Homo sapiens: one gene and its partners. The protein of the gene in region 2 purifies or fractionates together with the protein of the main gene of each other region. This does not show direct contact. Each region holds a gene or a part of one and is shown on either strand. Other genes may lie near its edges. The genes, in order: NHLRC3, HSD11B1, MANEA, CDC42SE2, DIPK1A, GLB1L2 and RAB18.

Region 1 (3,500 bases), on a different chromosome or scaffold from region 2:
AGCACTTTCAACAGCCTGACATCTATTAGGGGAGACAGACAAATGATTATAATATAGCATGATAGTTACTATGATACGAAGTACAGGCTGCTATAGGAAAAGAGCAGGAGAAACTAATATACAAATTTTTTGGTGGCGGTTTCGTTGTGAAAAGGTAACCTCAAAGAAGTGAGATCTATGCTTAGAAATTGAGTAAATGCAAAAGAGATAGTAGTGAGTAGGGTAGAAAAGAGAGAAACTGATTGAAATTTGTTGGCTAAAGCTTTCTGTTCCCTAAACAATGTGGAGTTAGTGAGAACAAGAGTTTGCCTAGGTGACTCTTTTTCAGACTTCCAAGGTTAACCTCTCCCACTCCACTTTAGATCAGCACATTTTTTTCTTGAGAAGTGAAAAGATATTCAAACACTTTTAGTGGAGTTTTCCCAGTAAGAGGGCAACTTTTTCTTTCAGGTAACTTTATGTTCAGATCCATTATTTGTGCCTTCTATCCTTTTAAATGGTACAGGAAATCCATTTTGCTCCTTTCTAAATGTTTGGGGAACCCCCTCACTATAGGACTCAAACACTTGTAAGAAAGTATGTGTGCACACCCAGCCCCAGAGTAATTACCCAGACATACCCACTAACACACATGTATCCACATGCCCAGACACACATGTATACCACAATCTATATATACATGCCCAGACACACACACACACACACACACACACACACACACACACAAACATATTCAGACACAAAGTCCCAGACACAATGACGCTGTATTTGTACCCGACCAGCTGAATCAAGTGTAACACTGTGAGGTATGTTGAACTTAGCAGGCCCTGTCCCATTTTCTCCATGCAGCCAAAGGATCATGAAATCTATAAACGGTAAAAATATATAGTCAGAGCAACATATAGAATGTCTCATGCATTTGCATATTTTATGAAACAGGTTACAAAGAACTATTTAATTACACCGCTGGTTCACTTGACTATGCTTTCTCGGCTTTCCTGTCTATATGCCCATTTGCCCATTTCTTACAGTTTTTTTTTTAAAGTTCCTTCTCTGCTTTAGGGAATTAATCTACTTCTTTAATTATTATCTCCACTTGAATTTTTCATGACTGCTTCAAAATCATTGTTTAGGGTTTATGCCATCCTCTCCCTAAAACTGGTTCCCCTTCCCAACTTATCTGTTACTTGATATTAGTATTCCACAGACCTTAAAAATTCACATTATGATTTTACCGTCTATCTCCTTTATTACGCACTACGGTGGGTTCAACTGTGGTCCTTTAAAAAGATGTCCAAGTCCTAACTCCTGATACCTGGGAATGTGATGCTATTTGGAAATAGTTTTTGCAGATAAAATTAAATTAGGGATCTCATGAGATCATCCTGGATTTAGGGTGGGCCCTAAATCCTTATTAAGAGAAAGAAGGGAAAGACTGGAGGCACAAAAACACACAGAGAAGAAGGGGCCGCCATGTGAATATGGAGACAGACATCAGAGTTTTGCTGCCACAAGCCAAGGAATGCTTGAGCCACCAGAAACTAGAAGCGGCAAGGCAGGACCTTTAGAGTGAGCACAGTCTACCAGATTTCTAACTTCTGGATTCCAAAACTGTGAGAATAAATTTATGTTGTTTAAAGCCACGCAGTTTGTGGCAATTTGTTATGGCAACCACAGGAAACTAATACACTTATATTCAATCTGTCTCCTAGATTTCGTTGTTTCTTTCATTCAATTTTTTGGATTCTTGCTTTATCCTTATTCTACATTTCCCTTTCAACTGTTATCAACCAAATTCAGTTACTAATTGATAAATTGACTACACAGCCTCCAAATGACAGAGCTCACTTGAAGTAGATCCTAAAAGAATGTCTTATAAAACCTGCTGTTGTAACATCACTTTTCTACTAGGAAAACCTCAAAAATGTTATAGGCAAAAACATGGCTTTAATAATCCTCAAATAAGACTTCAGAAACATCCCAAATTGTATTTTCTGCTGCTGAAAAAGTGCATCTTCACCTTCTTTCCTGCTAATAAATGCCTGTAGACCATGCATGATAAACCCTCCATGAATGTTCCATCCATCCTCCCCTCTCCTCCCACCAAAACTAGTTTAGTTCAATAACTACTTCCTTCATGATATCTTGTTCTATTTCTCCAGGCAATTTAGTTTCTCCTCCTAAGTCCATTTTGCTTTAAGAATCAATAGCATAGACTACATTTCATTGTTTCAATACATAATAGATCTGCACCTCCTGATACTAGAGAGGACACAGAAAGGGCACTCAATAAAATGCTTGCTGATTAATCAGCCTGTAGGATACTTGAGTCTGGGATTCTAGGTTTCTAATTTCTACATGCTTAATTAAATAGGATACACACTTATCTCCTGAGCCCACTAGAAATTCTCATACTGTTGCCAGTTACTTTTGGAGGAATCTCCTGGCCTTTGGTGAAGAATAAGTGGGCCTGTTATCAGGATCATTTATTGTGGGCAATCATACCCATCTGTTTTTCAGTTTTCTCGTAGTAATACACTTAGCTCTTTACACACCGCTTCATACACAACACTTAAAACATTATACCAAATATCGAACAAATTAAAATCAATTTATAATATTTTTATAATACCATAAACAAGTAATGTACCTTGGGACAGTTTGATCAATCTGTTATTCAATCCTCCATCTCCATCCACAATGTAAATATCTCCTGTGTCCTCTACATATAATTCTGCTGGGTTATCAAACTGCAAAGGATTCAAACTAGTGCCTTTTTTGCCTGGAGTACCCAAGACTTGAACAAGATCACCAAAAGAACTGTATTTTTTAACAGTATGACCAAAGAATCCTATAAAGATAGATATGTACATCTCACAAATAAAACCACTATACAAACATTCAGATTTTTCAAGTAAGCTAAGAGCAAAAATTTGATAGAAGTAAATAATAACAAATAGGTGATAGGCTTAGGAAATTACATATAATTGACAAGCACTATAGCTTCTTCGTAAATTACAGCCAAATTTGATCACGAATTAAAATCTCCATTAGTCCAAAATAAGCGGATTCTAAATTCAAATAAATAACATCCCCATAATTGACTCATTATACAGGAAACTCAGAATGCTAACAAAGTATTGGTGCACCATTTTCTTTTTTAATCTTATGACCTTGAATAAGCATTGCTTATGAAAGGAAATCAAGAAGAAAATGTAAAGGGAACAACTTATATTTGAAACTGTTATTTCAATCACTCACATACAGACCTTAAATTTCAGTAAGTCAACAAAAACGTTCTCTATGGTACAGATTTTTTTTTTAACTGCATTTTCACCTTGTGGAGACATTCAAAATTCAACCCAACTTTTCTTTGCTAAGAAGAAAATAATCTTTGTAAATCATGAGTATCTTATTTTCTCACGTTAAAATTTCTTTAAGTTAAAATTATCTTACAAGCAAGAGCATAAAGCAGACTACTAATAAGGGAATATCATAAA
Region 2 (3,500 bases):
ATGTCCCAAACCTGCTCTGTGACACAAACCTGTCCCATCCTGCTCAAGTTTTTCAATCTGTGCTGCCACCTTCCTCCCCGGTGAAGATGCCTATCTTGCTTGGCCTCTATGAGTGGCTTTTAGATTGAATTATTCAGAGCCAAGGATGCTAAAAAATGCTCGACAATGCATCAGACAGTCCCACACAATGAAGAATTGTCCCTCACCAAAGGCCAATAGTATCCTTATTAAGAAGCCCTGACACGAAGGCCTAGAAACAGAAAGGAAATATGGAGGGAAAATATGACTGTGAGTCTCCAACACAGTTTAAGGAAAGACATGAAGCCAGAAATCCAGGTACTAGCAAGCTATTTTATCATTTGTTCATTCAAGAAGAATGTGTTGATTATTTGCAAAATTTGTTAGCTCCAGGGAATCAGAGATGAATGAACAATGTGCCTGCCTTTAAGGAGAGCACAGCCTAATCACTGTGAGTAAAATGCTGTATTTCAACAGCTTTCAGAGGCAAGCAGTTGTAAAACATACTACTATTTTGTATACCAAGAAATAAAAACCCTTCCAATAGATCTGTAACATGATTTTTATCCCTTAGAGTGTTTGTTTTATGTTTGTTGCTACTTAGGTTGTTTCTAGTTTTTGTTTGTTTGTTTGTTTTTACAACTATAAACAATACAGTAACAACTTGGCTTACACTAGAATGTGGGTGCACAACAGGTATCTTGCCTTGGCCTTCTTGCTCCCTGCCATAGCCTTGGCATCTGGCATAGTGCCTGACTCAGAGTTGACCTTCATGCATATTTTTTGAATGAATGAATGAATGAGTATATTTGGGAAGCACTTGTTCAAGTTTGTTTATAGAATAAACTTCTCAGACATGAAGTTATGCTCTCTCTCCCTGACCATTCCTCTTGAAGTACTTAAGCAAATTTCTACTTATGGAAATCAATATAGGCAGCCCTCTGTATCCATGGATTTTGCGTCTTTGGATTTAAGCAACCATGGGTTAAAAATATTCAGGAAATAATTTTGTGTCTGTATTGAACACATACACACTTTTAAAATCTTGTCATTATTCCTTAAATAATACAATATAACAGCTATTTACATAGCATTTACATTGTATTAGGTATTATAAGTCATCTAGAGAGGATTTAAAGTATCCAGGAGGATGTGCCTAAGTTATATGCAGATACTATGCCATTTCATACAAGGGACTTGAGCATCCATGGATTTTGGTATCTGTGGGAGGTCCTGGAACCAATCCATTGAAGAAATTGAGGGTGTGTGTATATGATTATATTTAAAAGAAGGAAGCACAGCAAGAAGCAAATAATTTCTGAAATGAATTTCTCATAAAAGGTTATGAAAAGAGGCACAAAGCAATGGAAAAAACAACACACCCAACAACTTATTGAAATGTTTCTATGATTATAAAAGTTACACATGCATGCATACACACACAATGAAAATTTGGAAAATGAAGAAAAATATGAAGCTAAAAACAAAAATCATTCATTGTTCTGTAATTTAGATATAATCATGCTAATATTTTGGAAAATGTCCTTCCAGAGATATAGATACAGCTATGGATACAGATACAGATATAAATATAAATATATAGTACAACTAGTTATTTTCCTACTGCCAGACATTTAGGTTACTTCCAATGTTTTGCAATTTAAAAAATCCTACAACAAATGTTTTTGTACCTAAATCTGTGACTAATTTAATAGCTATTTCCTTGATATATTCTTGCACTTAGACTGGGTGAAATAAAGGAAACATTCTTTTTTTTTGAGATGGAGTTTCACTATATTGCCCCAGTCTGGAGTGCAGTGGTGCGATCTCGGCTCACTGCAACCTCCACCTCCCAGGTTCAAGCGATTCTCCTGCCTCAGCCTCCCAAGTAGCTGGGACTACAGGCACCCACCACCTCGCCCGGCTAATTTTTGTATTTTTGGTAGAGACGGGCTTTTGCCATCTTGGCCAGGCTGGTCTCAAATGCCTGACCTCGTGATCCGTCTGCCTTGGCCTCCCAAAGTGCTGGGATTACAGGCGTAAACCACTGCGCCTGGCCAAAGGAAACATTCTTAAGGCTTCTGGTACATATTTCCAAATTACCTTAGACAAAATGACAAATAAAGACCTAGACTTTAAAAAATACACAAAAATAAACAATTAAATGAATATAAGAATCATGCATTTTTCCTACTCTGAGTACAGTCATCTCTCAGTATTCAAAGGGGGATTGGTTCCAGGATCTTCTGTGGATACCCAAATCCATAGATACTCAAGTCCCTCATATATAAAATGATGTAGTATTTGCATATTACCTATGCACATCCTCCTGTGTACTTTAAATCATCTTTAGATTACTTATAATACCTAATTTGGTGCCTATGCCTTATATCATTTCTGTGAATTCAACATAGTACCCAGCATGTAGCAAATTCAAGTTTTGCTTATTAGAACTCTGTTAATTTATTTCCCCCCATTTTTTTTTGATCCACATTTGGTTGAATCCACAGATGTAGAACCCAGGCATGCAGAGTGCTGGCTGTACACTGATCTTGTCCTTTTTCTTTTCTTTTTCTTATTGTTAAGAAATTCAAGTGCCAATATTGAAGCTTAAGCACAGGATCTATACTGAGTCTAATTTGGGCACATTTATATTCTCCTTTTCTTAAGACCTAGTTTTCTATTTGTGTTTTTCCAAATAGAATGTATTTGTTGTAAGCCTTCTCAAACTCCTTGGTAAGGAAACGTAAAGATACAAATGATGGTAGAACCTTGCTATTTCCATCCACAAGTGCACTTGAATGAAACCTGTGGTCTAGCAGGGATAAGTAACCTCAACTACCTAAGTTCAGCCGAGCCTTTCCAGAAAAGAACATGAAGCAACAATGATTACGGGTAGCATTATATTATTCTCAACCTGCACTAAATTGTCACTGTCTTCATCAAAGAGTCTTCCTCCCTTTCAAATCTCCCCCACTCCTTTCTTTTTGGGGCTGATGCAGAACTGAATTCCTAGATAAATCTAGCAGATTCTGTCTCAATCCTCACAGTGTTGCCCAAACACGATCTCTTAAATTTAGACAACAATGATTATATTTTATAGAATAAATTTTCTGGAATTTTTATGCCCAGGTTGCTGATTTTACTCTGATCTCCTTCTTGGCATTCTTATAGGCCCTATGGATGACACGTCTACACAAACACATACCTCACCTCTGCGTACTTCTACCCATCCCCCCAACACACAGCTCAACCCTGTGCAGCCATCGCCACTCCCCATCCCTCATGTAAATGCTTACGTTCACATGGATAAACACTTCCACTCACCTCAGAAATCCTGGTTCCTGAAGATTATTTCTGAGGTAATTGGATTTAAGGGTAAAGCGGCATTTTTTCTTAGAAAAATGAGAACAACTGTGGCAAGGGATAAATTGCCCCTTTCCACTCTGGTTCTGAGGCCCGTTCATAATCTGGAGTTTGGG
Region 3 (3,989 bases), on a different chromosome or scaffold from region 2:
GAGCATAACATATCTTTCACATAGTGTTCATTAAGTGTTCAGCTTTAAAAAAGTTAATTTCTGGCTCTTTGCTGTTTCATTGGTATTCAGGCAGTGTGTGTGTATATATATATATGTATATCTGTGTGTGTGTGTATATATAGACTACTGACCGTATACACACTTGATAAGTTTACGGTGTATACTGAACATATTATAAAGAATCGTAAAGATCCAATAATTTTAAAAATCCAATTTAATAAAAAAAATCATCTTCAACGCTGTAAAACCACAATGACCCTTGAGATGCCTAAAATGTCTGATCTTGCAGGAAAGGGGTGGAGGAACTAATTTAGCTTCAATAAAAGAAAAGTATTATAAGTCACCATAGAGAAAATATTACAAGTTTATTGCAGATATATCTTTCCAAGGCAGGGACCTACTCAAAGTATTGGCTACTGAAAATCTGTTTTCTCCTCAAAAGACTGTTTACATTACTCATACACAATAGGTTCTTTTGAACCTGTAGCTTCTATTTTTTGAGTTTTGTGCTTTTAATCCTTTGAAATGCTGACTTGAAGCTTAGTGATGTCTAATAAAAAATTATTGGACATATCCAGCTAGCTAAGAGACCCCAAGAGATTCAGAAGCAGGGTGGTATGAATTAGTACTTCAAAAATTATTTGCTTTTATCATGTAACTCACAAAAGCCAAAAAGACTTCCCTTTCAATTAACTAAATTAAATCACACAGACTTCTGGTGCTTTTTTTAAAAAATATATTGTTTTCTTCTAATTTTATTTTGTATGAAGCCACCGGAGATAAATATAACTCAATACTAGAAGACACATCTGGAACTTTCAAAATCAGTTTCAAAATCAATCCTTGCCCAGGTCAGTTTTATTGTAAACACTTGTACCCTCTGGTTAACAGAAATTCAGTGAGGTTTAGTTTCTGTTTTTTGTTTTGTTTTGTTTTGTTTTTGAGATGGAGTCTCACTCTGTTGCCATGCTGAAGTGCAGTGGCGCCATCTTGGCTCACTACAACCTCCACCTCCCGGGTTCAAGCGATTCTCCTGCCTCAGCCTCCAGAGTAGCTGGGACTACAGGCGCACGCTACGACGCCCAGCTAATTTTTGTATTTTTAGTAGAGACAGGGTTTCACCATGTTGGTTGGCCAGGATGGTCTCGATCTCTTGACCTCATGATCCACCCACTTCGGCCTCCCAAAGTGCTGGGATTACAGGCGTGAGGCACCGCGCCAGGCCGCAGAATTTTTTTTAACCTCATTTTACAAATGATGAAGCTGAGCAGTTGGTAACTTTTTCAAAAATCTCTGGGCCAGCAAATGGCCAAGAAACCAATCTAAGGTTAATCACCTAGCAAGGAGCAGATCGAGTCTGGCTCAAGAACTCAAGTTCTTGTCCATGCTATTCTGCCTTCCTTTAAGGTATTAGACAAATCAAATTTAGAGGATACACCAGTTATTTTTGTGACACAAGATGAAAGCTGCTGCTATATGGTTATGTTTTCAATTAAGGATTATGTACCTAATAAACAATGATTAACTGTTACCTACTCCATAAACTGTGCCCAAACTTCATCTAAAGACAGCTTATTCTATTTTATGATCATACATTCACTATTCGTCACACGAATAACAGCAACAGCTCTGGAAATGGTGTTTTCATTGTTGTGATTTTTTGTTTTGGGGGGTGTTTTTCTGCATTGAGCCTGAAAATCCACAAATTCACAGCACTCATGTTTTTTTCAGGTGTGATACACCTGAAATAGATGTATTGTCATGAAAGTGATTTGCAAACAACGTGATACAGTATCACCAATATCTAGGTTTTACTTTATATTTTTGTTTCAAACTACTGCCTCAATACTTTAACGTGAACAGCCTATTCCAGTCCCATTTTTCTTATTTTCAAGTTCTTAATCAACATTATCCCCCCCTTGTTGTTGTTTTATAGCACTTCCACATTTTCTCCTAACACTTATCCGTAGGGTCTTACAACAACAAAACCAAACAGTTATACCTGCCTGTACTTCAAGTTGCTTCTTTGGAAAAAGGAACAACAAAAACACTAATCCAGCACTGTTGCATCCCGACTTAGCAAAGGCTAAGAGTCTAAGATGACAGTGCCAAACACGTTAACAGGTGAACTGAAAAACCATCTCTAGCGGCCTCGCCATCGGGCGGTCTCCTCCCGATGCCCAGAGGCGACAGCTACCTTTCCGTTGCACCCAGAGCCCAGCAGGCCTCGATCCTTCTACTCTCCCGGTCGGCTCAAGGCCCAGAGGCAGTCTGGGGGCACAAGGAGAAGGTGCTGAAAAAGGCTTCCATCCGACCCGAAATTTCCACCTTGTCGGGGAGACAAGGAAAATCCGAGGCGACAGGAGGTACCGTTTCAAAGAGGAGGCGGCGACGAGGCCAGTGAGGTGGGGATAAAGCAGTGTAAAAGGCAGTAAAACTAACGCAGACTAAAACAGGCCTAAGAGTGACAGCCTAGGTTAATCGAGGGGGCTACAGGCTCGCCGCTGGGCGCCACCAGCGCCTGCCAGAGGGGCGCCGGGTCAAAGGGCGCCCGGAGGAAAGCGGCCACCAGATTGGCTGGCGGGCGAGCGCGCAGGCGCCCGCGGTGGACCTCGTGCCTGCCGCCGCTGCTGGCGCCGCCGCCTCCAAGAGGTCTGACTCCTGCAGCTACTCACCAGGGTCGGGTAATTCACTTCTTGCAAGGACTCGGCCAGAGGAGAGGTTAAGACCGCGAACATAGAGCTGACTGCCGCCGCGCCCCGAGCCCAGACAGCCCCTCCTCCCCGAAGGCGCGCGCACAGCGTTCCGGGCGCTTTCAGGGGCGGGACGGGTGGGGGCGGGGTCACGGAGCGGGCGGGGCTCGGGGTCTTCCGGAGCCTCCGGTCGCGGGTCTAAGAGGACTAGGGCGGGAGCGGCGCGGAAGAAAGAGAGGACTGCGTTTTGGGGCGTTCTGTCAGAGGGGAAGGACGTGTGGATTGGAGTCAGACTGCACTCCCGCCCTATTTCTGCAAGTAGAACTCACTGCCTTTAGAAACGGTCTTCTGAGGCTCTGTTGGGAGGCTCTAACTGTATTACAGAGGACACATTTTTGTTTGTTTTTATGTGAAACATTCAGAAGTTGCTTGCATCAAGTGCTTTACAAGTACACTGGTTTTCAAACTTTTAAAGTTGAGGAACTGTTTTGATTTTTGTAAAAATAGAACTTTACTTGGAAGCCCAAGGTAGGCAGATGGAGATGGCGTTTTTAATTTGCGAATGTATTCTATAAAATCACATCTGTACTGAAGTACTAGAAATAATTGAGGATAAGTCAGATGTGAAGAGCAAGAACTTTTGAAATAGGATTACAACTGAAGGTTTCCATCTTACATTAGCTTCAGAAAACAAGAAAATGCTATCTTTTGTTTGGTTACATAGTAACAGGAAGTCCTTATTCAAGCTAGAACTTGCTGATGTGAACAGTTTCATAAGGGCTCTCCTTAAAAAGATTTTGTACACCAATTTTAATTGGGAAATATACATATGAGTATATCTCATGTGCATATCTTAAAGAAGAATGAAAAATGCCCAGGTACCCACTACAGAGCTTAAGAAAAAAAAAATGCCAGTATTTTTGGAGTCTTCTAGAAAGAAGACTCTCTAAAAACATCTCCTTCCTTCCGTTCACCATTATGCTGAATTTTATATTACTCATTCCGTTGTATTTCTGAAAATAGTTACATATGTACGATTCCCTAAAAATACTATTTTCCTAGTTTTATATTTCATATGTGAATCATTCTTCATTTTTCCCCTTTTTTCACTAATTTAGGTTTTGAGAGGTTTTGAGATTCGTCTGTATACAAGTCCATTTCCCATAAACTAGACTGGCACATCGTTACCCTTATGCTATTGTTAGACTTTTTAAGTTTTTGCTGATAAGAGCATCTGATTGCTCTTTTAATTTGCATTTTCCCTTTTGCTAAAGC
Region 4 (3,500 bases), on a different chromosome or scaffold from region 2:
CACGCCTGTAGTCCCAGCACTTTGGGGGGCCCAGGCAGGCAGATCACTTGAGCCCAAGACCAGCCTGGGCAACATGATGAAAACCCATCTCTATAAAAATACAAAAAACTAGCCGGATGTGGTGGCACATACCTGTGGTCCCAGCTACTTGGAAGACTAAGGTAGGAGGATCACCTGAGCCCGGGAGGTCAAGGCCACAGTGAGCTAAGATCACGCCACTGTACTCCAGCCTGGAGGATGAGCAAGGCCCTGCCTCAAGAAAAAAAAACTTTTTTTTTTTTTTTTGAGACGGAGTCTCTGTCGCCAGGCTGGAGTGCAGTGGTGCGATCTTGGCTCACTGCAAGCTCCGCCTCCTGGGTTCACACCATTCTCCTGCCTCAGCCTCCCTAGTCGCTGGGACTACAAGCACCAGCCGCCACGCCTGGCTAATTTTTTTTTGTATTTTTAGTAGAGACGGGGTTTCACCATGTTAGCCAGGATGGTCTCGATCTCCTGACCTCGTGATCTGCCTGCCTCAGCCTCCCAAAGTGCTGGGATTACAGGCATGAGCCACCGCGCCTGGCCAAGAAAAAGTTTTTTAATTAAAAAAAAAAATAAGGCTGGGCGCAGTGGCTCATGCCTATAATCCCAGCACTTTGGGAGGCCAAGCTGGGCAGATCACTTGAAGTCAAGAGTTTGAGACCAGCCTGGCCATCATGGTGAAACCCAATCTCTACTAAAAATACAAAAATAAGCCGGGCGTGGTGATGGGCGCCTGTAGTCCCAGGTACTCGGGAGGCTGAGACAGGAGAATCACTTGAACCCAGGAGGCGGAGGTTGCAGTGAGCCAAGATCACGCCACTGCACTCCAGCCTGGGCAACAGAGCAAGACTCTATCTCAAAAAAAAAAAAAAATTATAAAAAAATGTAAAATATATATATATGTATATAATTCTAGCTAGACAGAATGAGATCACAGGGGACTAAAACTAAATATAAATATAGAAGAGGTCTAAACATATGTCCCTGAAACACTGCCTCATTTTTTAGAAGTTGGGGCAATGAAAAGGAACCAACAAAAGAAACTGAAAACAGGCAGTAATATGCCAGAAACAAAGGGAAGATTTCAAACATGATGTTATCAACCACATCAAATGCTGCTATTGCTTCTACATCCACTGAGATTAGGCTTGAGAACTAGGGAATTTACCACCAACAAAGTCACTCAATAATCTCAAAAAGAGCTGTTATGGTAGAATGAAAGAGAAAAAAAGCAGATTGTAGTGGATCCAAACAAGACAGGGAGCGCGGATGACAACAAATATTTACCTTTTTGGAGAGGAGTAACTAAAGGAAGATGTGGCATTTGGAAAGGTGTTTTTTTAAAGATGGGAGATATTTCAATACATCTATATGCTGATAGGGATAATCCAGTAGAAATGGGGAAATGATGCAGCTCATTAGAATGCAGGAGAATGAGATGAATACTGAAGCAATGCAATGTCCTTAAAAGGAGAAAGGAGCACGAGTGGAGACCATGATGACAGAATAGTAGGAAAGGCAAAGTATGGGTAAAGATACAAGGAGACGTATAAAAGTTTTATTCTGATCGCTTTCATTTTTAACATACAGGAAACAAGGTCATGAGCTGAAAATGAAGAGGAAAAAAGGGAGGCTAGAGGTTTGACGAGAGGTATTAAAAGTAATCTGTGGTGATTAAATCAGGAAACGTACTAGGATTACAGAAGGATTAGGCCAGGTGCAGTGGCTCACGCTTGTAATCTCAGTATTTTGGGAGGCTAAGGCAGGTGGATCACTTGAGGTCAGGAGTGAGAGTTCGAGACCAGCCTGTCCAACGTGGTGAAACCCTGTCTCTATTAAAAAAAAATACAAAAATCAGCCGGGCATGGTGATGGGCGCCTGTAATTCCAGCTACTCGGGAGGCTGAGGCAGGAGAATCACTTGAACCTGGGAGGCAGAAGTTGCAGTGAGCCAAGATCGCGCCACTGCACTCTAGCCTGAGTGACACAGTGAGACTCCATCTCAAAAAGCGAAAACAAAACAAAACAAAACAAAAACAACCAGCAACACAAAGGGCCCTCCTTAGGTCAGTGGTCATGAATTTAAAGGGAGAGCCAGGTCAGCTTGGGTGTGTTTTCCTCAAAGCATGCTCAACTTCCCAGATGTATGCTGGAACAGATGGAGAACTGGACACAAAGGGTGTGGGGGTAAGGGTTTGGCCAGGTGAATTACAACAGAAGAATGCCGCAAGGGAGTTGAATGTGTATGAAAAGGCAAAATTATAATAGTGGACCACAAATTTAAGGCAGGGTAAATACTCCAGTGAGGACATGGAAGGAGGTGGTCTTGGGACAGCAAAGAGGTGATGGCAGCAATGGATTACAGATCGCAGACATACAGAAGTACTGTTGAAGAAACGTTTACAGCCATCCCTCGGTATCCATGGGTGATTGGTTCCAGGAACCCTGCCCCACCCTGGCCCAAATCCCCAGATGCTGAAGTCCCTTACATACATAAAATGGCACAGTATTTGCATATAACCTAGGCACATCCACCTGTATACTTTAAATCATCTCTAGACTATGTATACCTAATAAAATATAAATGCCATGTATAATTGTTATACTGTAGCTTTTTACCCTTTTTGTTCTGTTTTTTCTTTTTAAATACTTTTTATCCTTGGCTGGCTAAATCCTCAGATGTGAAATCTGATGATTTGGAGGGTCTACTGCATTTTATGGAAGGAGTTGGAAAGACAGGATGCTGAGACCCCAGTGGAATTAATGAAATTGTGTCTATGAAATATCCTCAATAAAGCATGGGCAGTTCTGGTTAAAATGTTATAGAACTACCTTAAAGACTAAAGAAAAATCTCACCCTGGGCAAAGTGAACCTGCAAGATAAAGGAAACTGGAAGGCTAAATTGGAGCTGGAGAACTGTATCACAGGAATTATAGCTGGAGCTTCCTAGACATAGAATCCTCAACCACTTCCAGCACTCCTGAAGAAAGAGTCAGCTTTGCACAACCTCGCCAACTCAGAAGGCAAAAATGCCAGATCACAATCAGATAAGCCACAATAAAACTATACCTTCCCCCACCTTCCCCCCTATATCTTTTCTCTGTAATCCTAAGCTGCATCCTGAAGTGGTAGGAATACCATACTGAAGAAGACCTGGCAAAGTAAAAAGAGAAGCCAACTAAGTACGACTCTTCCTCCAAAACAAGCTTCTAGGTTCAAAGCAGTTTTGAGCCAAAGAAAAGTTCTGAAATCTACAAGAGTTTGAACACTACTATACTGTACCTTTTAATGACTAAAATAAAACTATTATTGACAAGTGACCAGAAGACTTTTTGTTACCTAAAAGTGACTTAAAAAGCTATCTGATCACGCTAAAAGCTCATCTAGAAGCAGAGAAAGACTTAGTCTACAGGGAGAGTTTTGAAGGCACAGTGAAAGTTGTATTTTGCTTAAACCTTACCAAGTTCCACCCATTAAAC
Region 5 (4,101 bases), about 120 Mb from region 2:
TCTAAGACATTCTTTCAAAACATGAAATCAAACTAGTTTCCCTCATAAGAATTTGTGGCATGAATGAGCTGATAAGAGGAGGGTTTTTTGTTTTGCTTTTTGCAGAGAGACCCATCCAAATCACAGTAAACTCACTCCATGGCAAATCAAATTTAGTTAGTAATCTCAGGTTGATGCATATCTAGAAAGGGGTGGGAAAAATAAATTGTTATTAACTTTGTTAGGCATGATAATGGTATTATGATTATGTCTGAAAATATCTTTATCTATTAGAAATGTATATTGAGGTACTGAGATGAAATGATGTGATGCCTGAGGTTTACTTTAAAATACTTTGGTTCAGCCAGGCTTGATGGCTCATGCCTGTAATCCCATCACTTTGGGAGGTCAAGGCAGGAGGACTGCTTGAGCCCAGGAGTTTGAGACTAGCCTGGGCAACACGGCGAAACTCCGTGTCTACAAAAATTAAAAAAATTAGCTGGGCATGGTGGTGTGCGCCTGTAGTCCCAGCTTCTCAGGAGGCTGAGGTGAAAGGATTACCTGAGCCTGGAAAGTCCAGGCTGCAGTGAGCCCAGATGGCACCACTGCACTCCAGCCTGGGCAACAGAAGGAGACCCGTCTCTAAATAAATAAATAAATGAATAAATAAATAAATAAGTTTGGTTGGAAGAGGGAGTGGGGGAGGTGAAATGAAATAAAATACTGATGAGGGTGGCTGATGGGCATATGACAGTTCATTATTGTTTTCTGTTTTCTGAAGGTATACAAATTTCCACAGTAAAACACTTTTTTTTTTTTTTTTTTTTTGAGACGGAGTCGCACTCTGTCGCCCAGGCTGGAATGCAGTGGCACGATCACGGCTCACCACAAGCTCTGCCTCCCAAGTTCACGCCATTCTCCTGCCTCAGCCTCCCGAGTAGCTGGGACTACAGGCGCCCGCCACCACGCCCGGCTAATATTTTGTATTTTTAGTAGAGACGGGGTTTCACCGTGTTAGCCAGGATGGTCTCGATCTCCTGACCTCGTGATCCGCCCGCCTCGGCCTCCCAAAGTGCATGAGCCACTGCGCCTGGCCGTTTTTTTGTTTTTGTTTTTGTTTTTAAGAGGCAAGGTCTCACTCTGTTGCCCAGGCTGGAGTGCAGTGGCGTGATCTCAGCTCACTGCAATCTCCGCTCCGGGGCTCAAGCCATACTCCCACTTCAGCCTCCCGGAGTAGCTGGGACCACAGGCACCCAACCAACTTTTTTTTTTTTTTTTTTTTTTTTGTATTTTTAGTAGAGGCGGGGTTTCACAATGTTGCCCAGGCTGGTCTCAAACTCCAGAGCTCAAGGAATCAGCCCGCCTCGGCCTCCCAAGTGCCGGGATTACACGTGTGAGCCATCGCGCCTGGCCGGTAAGCTTTTTTTTAAACTCACATAAAAGATTACACAGAGGTACCTGGCCTGGGTTGAATTCTAGAAGGGGTTGTGACAGTGTTACTCAAGTGCACAATTACTATTGGTGGTGCTTGCTACAAAGACTCAGTTTTATTCGTACACGCTTAATATCATGGGTTGTCAAATCATGCTTCCAATTTGCAATACGTCACTCATTTCAGGGTAATGACTTACACATACAATTTTCAAACAAAAATGTAAGATTTACTTGCCTCATGATGGTTACCTTCTCAACTTTTTTCATAATTTATAAAAGCACCAGCTGACCCCAAATCATCTACCTCTTGGCCTTTTAATGTAAGCGGTAAAGGAATACTGTCCTCTGAATGCAGCGTTGGCTAACACTGCTGACCCACGCAAGGCATTGATTTGTAGTTGTTTTTCCATCGGAGTGATGGATTTGCGCTCAGCTACTCGCGGTGTCTACTAGGTCCCCCTGGTGACCAAACAGTACACTTAGGCAGTAGTAGGGTTCCAAGGCACAGACTGGCAGCGGAACAGAGGGTGGAACGGGAAATCATGAAAAATTAACACGCGAACCGTACACACGACATGACTGAGAATTACGTTTGCATTACTAGGGTATTTGGGATCCACAGACCAGCCACTAGCCCCTTTCCTTTAAAAAGCAAACACCCATCCGCCTGGTTCAGGCTTATCGGTCTCCACCTCCCATTTAAATCTTGGGTGTGATGGAACGACCCAACCAAGGGGCTCGGCACGAGGCACACGCTGCTTTTTGGAGCCTGGGGAAACACTGGTGTGACAAATTGTCATAATTTTCTAAGACACGGAGGAATGCTACACCACCTTTCCTACCACCGACTTAAGACCCAAGACACTGAGTCAAGGGCAACCGACCTGCGGGGGCCCACGGGGGAGGGGGGAAAGCCCCGAAAACACCAGGGAGAAGGCGGCCCGTCGAGCTCCGCCTGGAGCGGCGCAGGGCTGCGGGCAATGCCCGGAGCGCGGGGTCGTACCCAGGTCACGTCTCGGGGCTCTCAGGATGCGAGGGCGTACCCGGGCGGGACGACTCGGGCCCTGGAGCCCGGCTGGCCGCGGCGCGGGAGCCGCGAGGGCCGCGGTGGGGGGCGTCGGCAGAGCCGCTGAGGGGGCTGGGGAGGGCGCGCCGCCAGGTGCCGGACGGCAGGGGGCAGCGGGGTTCGGGCGGGCACAGACCCAGGGAGGGAGGAGGGGAGCGGGCGAGTCCTGCGCGGCGCGGCAGGGCACACGGCCGGGTGCTCCCGCAGCTGGTGGCTGGGCGGCCGCCGGCCTACCTGGAGGTAATAGGGTTTCCTTAGCCAGGCCCCCGGACAGAGACTCCTCGCCATGGTAATCACACATCGCCCCGCCGCGCTGCAGTCAGAGGCGGACCCGAGCGCTGGCGGCCGGGCTCCCCGCCTCCCCCCGCCTCCCCGCCCCCTGCCCGGCCGGGCCCGCCCACTCCCCCGCCCCCGCCGCGGCGCGCGCCGCGCTCCCCTCGGCCCGGCTGCAGTGAAGGCGGCGAGAGGCCAGAGGCCCAGCCTCCTGCCCTGTTCGCCCGCCGGCCGCCGCGGCTGTCAGAGAGGCTGCTGCCGACTCCGCCATAAAGGGGAGTCGCACCTCGCCTCCGCCGACACAAATCGACTGCGCCTGGAGCTTAAAGGGGAGGCGCGCGGAGGCGGGAGGGGGCGCCGCGGCAGCGGGGGTGTCGCACGCTCGGCGCGGATTGGGGCGTGCTTCTCGCTGGCTGATGCGGCGACCCCCGGACCGCGCTGGCCTCGCAGTCTGCTCCGGCTTCCGGCTCCCCGCGCTGCGCCCAGCTGCGCGTCCCGCCACCCGCCCCGGCAGCACCGACGCTCCCCATGGACTCTTCTCCTGGAGTCAGGACGTGTCTGGACGGGTTGTTTGGAAATTCAAGGGAAGCTTGGGGCTCCTTCCCTGGGGACTGGCTCGTCCTCCCTCGCCCTTGGTGGCGGTCGGGGGAAGGGGGTGTCTGCCGCAGCTGGAGACGCAGACCGGGGCATCCCCCCAGGACTGGGCTCAGCTTCGAACGCGGACAGGGCGCCCCACTGCTGAACTCGGTGCCCCCCTTACCACGCTCCAGTTCGCCTCTAACGGCCTACAACTTTTTTTAAAAATGTACTTTTAAAAAATTCCGACTTTTTTGGTTTATATTGTTTTTAAGACAGCTTCAGAGTTTTCCTGGCCCCGTCCAGGAACACTGATTTCAAAAGAAAACAAAAACAAAAACACCGAATTAAATACAGTCCTGAAGGCAGGGAGCCTGGGACGTGGCCTGCTGCTTGGTTAAGGCTACATAACACAGGGTGTGGTGTCTTTCTTTTGACAATGAGTTCCAAATAAGGGAAAAAAGAGCCACCCTAGTGGGAGAACAGCTGTTGATCCAAGTGACTTGTAATGGAAGAAGCAGCTTTTTTTTTTTTTTTTTTTTTTTTGGCTGCTTTTTACCCCACCTACCACGTTTAAGCGTGATGCTAACAAAGTTTAGGTGGCCCGTTAGAGCTCATTCCGGCCTGTTGCTCTGAGAAGGGGTTTCCCCAGAAGCAAACCATTACTCATTCTCACTTGGTTTTTGCATAAGCCTTGTTCAGGTGCCTTGTTCTGAAGAGATACCTTCATGTCTGCCCCTTCCCTCAACCCACACACAGACACAGGTTTTAAA
Region 6 (3,500 bases), on a different chromosome or scaffold from region 2:
TGAGACAGAGTCTTGCTCTGGCACTCAGGCTGGAGTGCAGTGGTGTGATCTTGGCTTACTGCAACCTCCGCCTCCCGGGTTCAAGCGATTCTCCTGCCTCAGCCTCCCGAGTAGCTAGGGTTACAGGTGTGTGCCACCACGCGCAGCTAATTTTTGTATTTTTAGTAAAGACAGGGTTTCACCATGTTGGCTAGGCTGGTCTGGAACTCCTGACCTTGTGATCTGCCCACCTCGGCCTCCCAAAGTGCTGGGATTACAGGCATGAGCCACCGCGCCCGGCCTTCCCTATCTCTTTCTTAGGAATGTTACCAAGCATATTTTGAAAAGTCCAAGTATTTTGATAAAGTATAAGAGAAACAAATTCTTGTTATGGTTTTGTCTTCCTATCTCGGCCCACGTGTGTCATCTTCCCAGTGCTAGTCTTGGCTGAGTTTGGTGTTCTGTGGTTGGAGTGGAAATCTGGACAGGAATCAGCTGGGACTTCATTCATTCCTCATCCTCAACATTGTGGCCTTTAAGATTTTCTTGTTAACTGGTGTAACCTTTCTCAGCCTCCCAGTGTACCAGGTGGTTAGACCCAGACTGCCTCAGGGAAGAGGCTGATCCTTGTCCCCAAGCCGTCTCCCCTCCCCTGGTCCCTGGGGAGCCCTGGGCTTCTTTTCCTCCTGGTTTCCAGCATGACCCGCCCTTCCCTCGGGGGCATAGCTTCTGTCTCCACTACCCAGGGCCACTTCTCAGGCACTGATCCATCCAGCCTGGTAGGCTCACCCTAGTCACGAACACAGCCAGGGCAGCCTCTCCCATCCCTGTGGATTAGAAAGCTGTGTGCCACCGTCAGCGATTTCCTCGGCTCAGCCGGGGCCGGGCACAGGAGGACGAAGGGTTTAACAGTCTTAACTTAGAAGCAGTGGGGAGCTGTGGCACTCAGACTCCCCCTTCTCACCCCGCCCATGTGGCACCTGGCCATGCATGAGAGGGGCATGTGGGCACACCTGCGGAGGGGGCGTCCGGGCGTGAGTGAGAAGGCTAACCTGTCAGGTGGGGTTAGAATGTGGGGGTGTCGGTCTGGAGGAAACTGCTCTCTCCTCACCCCTTGTTTGACCCACAGAAATGGGATAATTTCCTGACCCTGTTTAGGACTTCCAGACCAGGGCAAGAGGAGCCTCAGAGCCTTTTGTTAGAAAATATGTGTCTTCTCAGAACCTGAAGTGAGAAGGAAGAGCCCTGACTCCAGCTTTGGAACCAATCCACGCTGCTGTGTTCCTCTGGGGAGTTTGGGATCATAGCAACAGGGTGGAGGGAGAATTCAACTCTTGCTCACCTGCTGCTCTGGGCTGTGCGCCACTGATGCCAAGGCGTTAGCCACGTTGGCAAGGATGGGGACTGCCTCCTGCTCAGCCCCTCGCAGTCTCTGTCAGGCTTGTTTTTTGGGGTGACGCTAGAAGGTTGTGTCTCCTCCTTCCACAGCCTCAGTGATTCCTAACCCTTTTGACTTCACTTTTTGAAATGGGATCACAGAGCAAGTTGTTGAAAACTAGGCCTGGAGTCCTGTGAAAAGCTTTTCTCACTGCTGGCAGCCAGGCCCTGTAGCTGTGGAGCTGGAAATGAACTTCCACCAGGCTGTGTCCTTGGGGAGGGAAGCTGCAGGAGTGCGGGTGGGTGCTCGCCCCAGAATCGGTTTGCATTGTCTCCCCACTTCTGGGCTCAGTGGGGTGGAGGAGGGCACAGGTCATTCTGGAGCACTGGGGGGCCTCTCCCTTCTCACGCATCAACAGCCTGCTCACAGCAAACCCACTGTGACACTAACATCCTTCCTTTCCCCCGTTTACACTTCAAGCTGGCTACTCCAAGACCCTGGCATGAGGCTGAGGACAACTTACAAGGGCTTCACCGAAGCAGTGGACCTTTATTTTGACCACCTGATGTCCAGGGTGGTGCCACTCCAGGTACAAGCAAATGGGGTCTTCTTTGATCTTGGTCTGTCTTCCTCTAGGTCGTGGATCATCCTTGGTTAGTTCTCAGACCAAGGGTCCTCCAGTGTTTTGAACACACGAGCAGGCTCTTCCTCACCGTCCGAGACTCGTAACTGAGGGGCTTGCAAGAGTTGTCTTTGGAAAGATCTGTGCATTTCAGTGTTGTCTCACTTGGGTGCGTTACTGAAAGGACAGACAGATGTAAGGGCTCACATTGCCACATACAGCACTGGAGAGACAGGGATGCTGTGATAGCCGGGAACACGCATCCACTGGCATCTCCATGGTTCCACAGAGACAGGGATGAGGTGATAGCCGGGAACACCCATCTATCTACCAGTGTCCCAGTAGCACTGCGGCTCAGTTTTGCACAGGGTGGAGCACATGTGGATTAACCTTTGCCTATAAGACTGCAGGACTTTTTATAAATTATAAAATTCCTTTCGCTGACTTTACGAGATACTTCCCTCTGCTACCAAAAAGGTGCTGCATGGTACACACTTACTATTCAAAACATGCGTTAAAGTACGTTTTGGGGGAGGAAGTACCTTAATATTTTATATAATAATTGGAAGCTTTGGAAAGCAGGAATGGGAAAAATCAACCCAGTTGCTGTGTAAAACCAGAAAGAACGGCATTGAGAAATTAGTACATCAATAAAAAATTAGTTCAAGTCAGTGGTATGGAATACTCACCACACACATAAATCAAAGGGAACTGCCAGATGAAACACAGGATGCTCAGTTATATTTGAGTTTCAGATAAGCAAGGAATAATTTTTTAGTGTAAATATATTCCAAATATTGCATGGGTCATACTTACACTAAAAAATTATTTGTTGTGAATTCAAATTTAACTTTATGTCTGGTATTTTTGTTTACTAAATCCGGCAGCCTTAACCATGACAGAAGCAAGGAACTAGGAAGTCATTAGCCTAGATCTTGCTGGGAAGCTGGGGATCAGCAGGTTGTAGGAGTCGGGTGGGCAGCAGGATGGCCGTCCTGGGAGCAGGCTCAGAGGCACTTGCAGACGTGCAGCGGGTCACCAATGCATCTTTTTGAAATAAACGATAACATAATTATTATTATTTAACATATTTAAATAATCACATAGTTATTTAATTTTTGTGACTATGGGATAGTATACATAACATAAACTTTGCCATTTTAACCATTTTGAAATGTACAGCTCAGCGGCATTGAGTCCACCCACACTGTTGTGTGCTCATCTCCACAGCCTTAGTTCAGGCTGCCACAACCAAACACCTAGACTGAGTGGCTTACAGACAAAGAAATTCATTTCTCCCAGTTTTGGAGAGTGGGAAGTCCAAGAACAAAGCACTGGCAGATTCGGTGTCTGGAAGGGCCCCCTTCCAGGGCATATACGGCCATCTTCTTGATGCAACCTTACATGGCAGAGAGCGTCAGAGAGCTCCCTGAGGTCCCTCTTATAAGAGCACTAGCCCTGTTGGCAAGGACTCTATGCTCATAACTAATCACCACCCAAAAGTCCCACCTCTGAATACCG
Region 7 (3,500 bases), on a different chromosome or scaffold from region 2:
CCAGTTAACAGAAACTCTTTATTTTCCCTAACAATAATGCTAGGATCATCTTTACTATATTCTCCTCATCAGATCATGAAATTTTAACAAAACCTCCCAATTTACAGATGAAGTTAGTAAGTTAAGTGACTTCATCAAGATTACATGTAATTCAAGGCAAAGTCAACCAAGACTATTATCTAGCTCTGACTCAGCTCAGCTACCTTTCAACTATTCCAAGTGGTCTCTTCATCCCTTTACGTTGTCTGCAGTCTAAACACATGATACCAAAATACTTACCTCTATCTTCTCATATATTCTCATAAGTTAGTGTGACTAACCACTTTCAGGCGATCTAAATCTTATCCTTAAAAGGCATTTAAGTATCATTGCTCCTAACAATCCTTAATAACTAGTATCAATACATATGTGAAGATAAGAATACACGTCAAACACTGTAGCAAATGCTGAACATACAAAATTAACACACTCTGTTAGGTCCACGATGACAGAGACCAAGTTTGTTATTCACTATTATAACCCCTCCTCTTAGTAGCAGTCCCTGGCATACAATAAGTATTCAAATAACTGTTGTATATTACAAAATAAAAGACAATCCATAGTATAGGAGAGAAATGTGTGTACAGATAATCACATTAGCAGTTTTAATAAAGTATCATGAGACAACAGATAAGGAAGTTATTTTCTCTTGGTAAGATCTAGAAAGGCTTCAAAGATTTAATGATACCAAAATTAAGTCTTGAAGGACAAATAAGATTTCAACAGACATGGAGGCAGTGGGGTGGTGAGAGGAAGGTAGAAGGATTTAGATTAAAAAGGCCAAAGGCAAGAAAATACTGGCCATTTCTATAGAATTTTTAAACACAGGCTTACCTATTGTTGCTGCAAGTTCTGGATCAAACGTATCATCTGTGAACCTCAAGAGCAGGCTGAAAGAGATATTAAAAAGACAGGTTGGGAACTTGAATTTTCTAATCATATGATAAATGTGTTCATGATTATTTGGTCACAAATTATTAGATGCAGATAAAAATAACTGATGTAGGCCTGTTCCTAGGAATACTGCCTCAGAGCAGGTATACACAGAAAAATTAAATTACCAGAAAGGCAATTTAAAAATCCCAAGAGCAAAGTAGTTTACTATGAAATATATTCCCCGTGCTCTCCTACACAATCCCCCAAGTACAAAAGGTGGGGGTTTTTGTTGTAGTTGTTTTTTAACTGTTCTGGTATGTCCTTCTGAGAAAATGATATTAGCAGCATGTCATGCTTTAACTGACATAGATGAAAAGGGAAAAAATAAAGTCTCTTAGAATGCAACAAACTAGCTTTAAAAAATCTGATTGTGTAATCCACTCTGAATTCAAGCAAAACCAGAAATATATCAAAGCCGAGCATTCTGTAACACGCAGTACGGCTACTACCTAAGAGAAGATACAGTAAAAAGAGAGGTTAAAAGAAAGATCACAGGACAGAGTAGATAGACTCGGGCAAACACTAGGTAGAGTGTGTAAAACCAAGTAGGCAACTGGAGGCTACTGGAGGCTTTTAAAGAAAGTTAAGACAAGTACTGCTCTTTGTTTTGAAAAGTTAATACTAACAAAAAATGGAAGAAAATCAATGGAAGACAACCGCCATGGTTATGGCAAGAGAGAACAAAGGACTAAACCTAGGAAATGGTAAGAAACTAGAAAGAAAGGATAAAAGCAAAAGACACCAGATTAGAAGGGTACTCTAAGATTTTACATCTTCCAGAATTATTTTACTTACTATGAAGCAGAAGTGTCAGTTATTAGAAACTCTTCAAAAATAAAATCTAAGCTTTTGTTAAAGCCCTTGATTTTAAAGTCATTCAATCTTCCCTCATGTTAACTTCTGAAGTATAAGACTCTCCTAATTGACCTGTTTGCATGAATAAAATCAAAGAAACAGCCATCAGATATCTAAATTATAGAAAAATCTTATGACTCTTTCTATAGGTTGTGATTATTGCTGGTAGAGGTATGTTTTGTCCATAGAGTTTCTGCAAAACATAATGGCCTCCTGGTAGTTTCCAAACCCAGTGTCATTAAATATATTTGAACGATTAACTCTCCCTTACTTGGTTTTGTTTTCTTGTGTTTACCATAAAACCAGCATCATAAAATCAAAGTAAAAAAGAAGAGTCAAATTCTAGATTTATCTACTTAACATCTTGACTATATTTAGTTACTTGGAACATAGGTAACAATACTAGTAAGACTCTTAAAGACTACCTATAAAATTTTTCTTCTCTCCCAACATACTCAGTTACCCATAATTTAAGAAAAGATACATAATATCTACACGTGGTCACCACAGAAAATATTACTACAAAAACATAAGATTACCTTGTAGACTAGTTGTAATAATATCATAATAATAATACAATAATGATGATATTGGGTATTATTTATTGAACATATGGCAATGTGCAGACACAAAGCCAGAGGTTTTTCTCTCATAATTGCTAATCCTTAAATGGCCTTTGTTATTAACAGTACTTTGTAAGGAGAGGCAGGGAATTGGTGGCATGGTGTGAAGCAACAAATTTTAATACAGGCTCTGGGTATACATCAGATCTTAGACAGGGGTACCCTGGTAGCCCAAAAAGTATTCTAAATTCTATGTGTGCATTTTTCTAGGCAGAGAGTCCATTTCTCTATTAGACTTTGAAAGGGACAGAGAGTCCATTTCTCTATTAGATTTTGAAAAGAACTGACAATCTCAAAATAATTAAGAAGCACACTTTTTTTTTTTTTTTTTTAAGAGAGAGGGTCTCACTCTGTCACCCAGGCTGGAATGCAGTGGCAGAATCACAGCTCACTAATCCTCCCACCTTAGCCCCCCAAGTAACTGGCATGACAGGTGTGCATCACCATGGCCGGCTAATTTTTTTATTTTTATTTTTTTAGAGGCATGGTCTCGTTATGTTGCCCAAGCTGGTCTCGGACTCCTGGCCTCAAGAGATCCTCCTGTCTCAGCCTCCCGAGTAGCTAGGATTACAGGATGAGCCACTGCACCTGGCAGAAGCACCATTCTTATAGTATTGTATATTTACACCCTCATATTTTCAAAGTTAAAGGAGCAAAATGTTTCCCATGCAGAAGTAGAGATGGAAGGAGTAACTACCACCATGGCACTTAGATGTGACCAAATTTATAATAAACAGAGTGTGATTATAACTAATCTGCATTTTTTAAATTTACATATGAAATTCACCAAAAAAAAAAAAAAAAGGGAAGGCAAGGGGCAAAGGAGGGACAGCAATTTAGATAATAGGTCTCTCTAATCCCTTCCAGTTCTTGATATATTCTGCTACTCTTTACCTTACCAGGCCTAGCCACAGAATTGGAGTCTTACACATTTAGGGTCTGAGAGGTTTCTATTCCAACCCCCTCGCTTTTGAAATGAAGGCCTACAGCATTCAAGTATCACACACAAGGTCACACAAGTGGCAGCCCCAGTTTCATAATCCTGAT

Evidence for each region.
Region 1: the proteins of HSD11B1 (region 2) and NHLRC3 purify together in Homo sapiens (affinity purification with mass spectrometry, with the first as the bait; one large-scale study listed by BioGRID). This does not show direct contact.
Region 3: the proteins of HSD11B1 (region 2) and MANEA purify together in Homo sapiens (affinity purification with mass spectrometry, with the first as the bait; one large-scale study listed by BioGRID). This does not show direct contact.
Region 4: the proteins of HSD11B1 (region 2) and CDC42SE2 purify together in Homo sapiens (affinity purification with mass spectrometry, with the first as the bait; one large-scale study listed by BioGRID). This does not show direct contact.
Region 5: the proteins of HSD11B1 (region 2) and DIPK1A purify together in Homo sapiens (affinity purification with mass spectrometry, with the first as the bait; one large-scale study listed by BioGRID). This does not show direct contact.
Region 6: the proteins of HSD11B1 (region 2) and GLB1L2 purify together in Homo sapiens (affinity purification with mass spectrometry, with the first as the bait; one large-scale study listed by BioGRID). This does not show direct contact.
Region 7: the proteins of HSD11B1 (region 2) and RAB18 purify together in Homo sapiens (affinity purification with mass spectrometry, with the first as the bait; one large-scale study listed by BioGRID). This does not show direct contact.

Annotation. Positions count from the first base shown.
Region 1 is NC_000013.11:39,041,456-39,044,955, reverse strand, and holds part of NHLRC3 (NHL repeat-containing protein 3 isoform a precursor), read right to left. Parts: intron 2,852-3,500; coding exon 2,651-2,851; intron 867-2,650; coding exon 775-866; intron 1-774.
Region 2 is NC_000001.11:209,711,346-209,714,845, reverse strand, and holds part of HSD11B1 (11-beta-hydroxysteroid dehydrogenase 1), read right to left. Parts: intron 1-3,500. UniProt on the Homo sapiens protein: Controls the reversible conversion of biologically active glucocorticoids such as cortisone to cortisol, and 11-dehydrocorticosterone to corticosterone in the presence of NADP(H).
Region 3 is NC_000006.12:95,576,346-95,580,334, reverse strand, and holds the start of MANEA (glycoprotein endo-alpha-1,2-mannosidase), read right to left. Parts: upstream 2,801-3,989; 5' UTR 2,697-2,800; intron 2,113-2,696; exon of another isoform or gene 2,024-2,112; intron 1-2,023.
Region 4 is NC_000005.10:131,270,553-131,274,052, reverse strand, and holds part of CDC42SE2 (CDC42 small effector protein 2), read right to left. Parts: intron 1-3,500. UniProt on the Homo sapiens protein: Probably involved in the organization of the actin cytoskeleton by acting downstream of CDC42, inducing actin filament assembly. Alters CDC42-induced cell shape changes.
Region 5 is NC_000001.11:92,958,663-92,962,763, forward strand, and holds the start of DIPK1A (divergent protein kinase domain 1A), read right to left. Parts: upstream 2,801-4,101; 5' UTR 2,768-2,800; coding exon 2,714-2,767; intron 1-2,713.
Region 6 is NC_000011.10:134,345,488-134,348,987, forward strand, and holds part of GLB1L2 (beta-galactosidase-1-like protein 2 isoform b precursor), read left to right. Parts: exon of another isoform or gene 1-361; intron 362-1,837; coding exon 1,838-1,946; intron 1,947-3,500.
Region 7 is NC_000010.11:27,507,304-27,510,803, reverse strand, and holds part of RAB18 (ras-related protein Rab-18), read right to left. Parts: intron 930-3,500; coding exon 874-929; intron 1-873. UniProt on the Homo sapiens protein: The small GTPases Rab are key regulators of intracellular membrane trafficking, from the formation of transport vesicles to their fusion with membranes.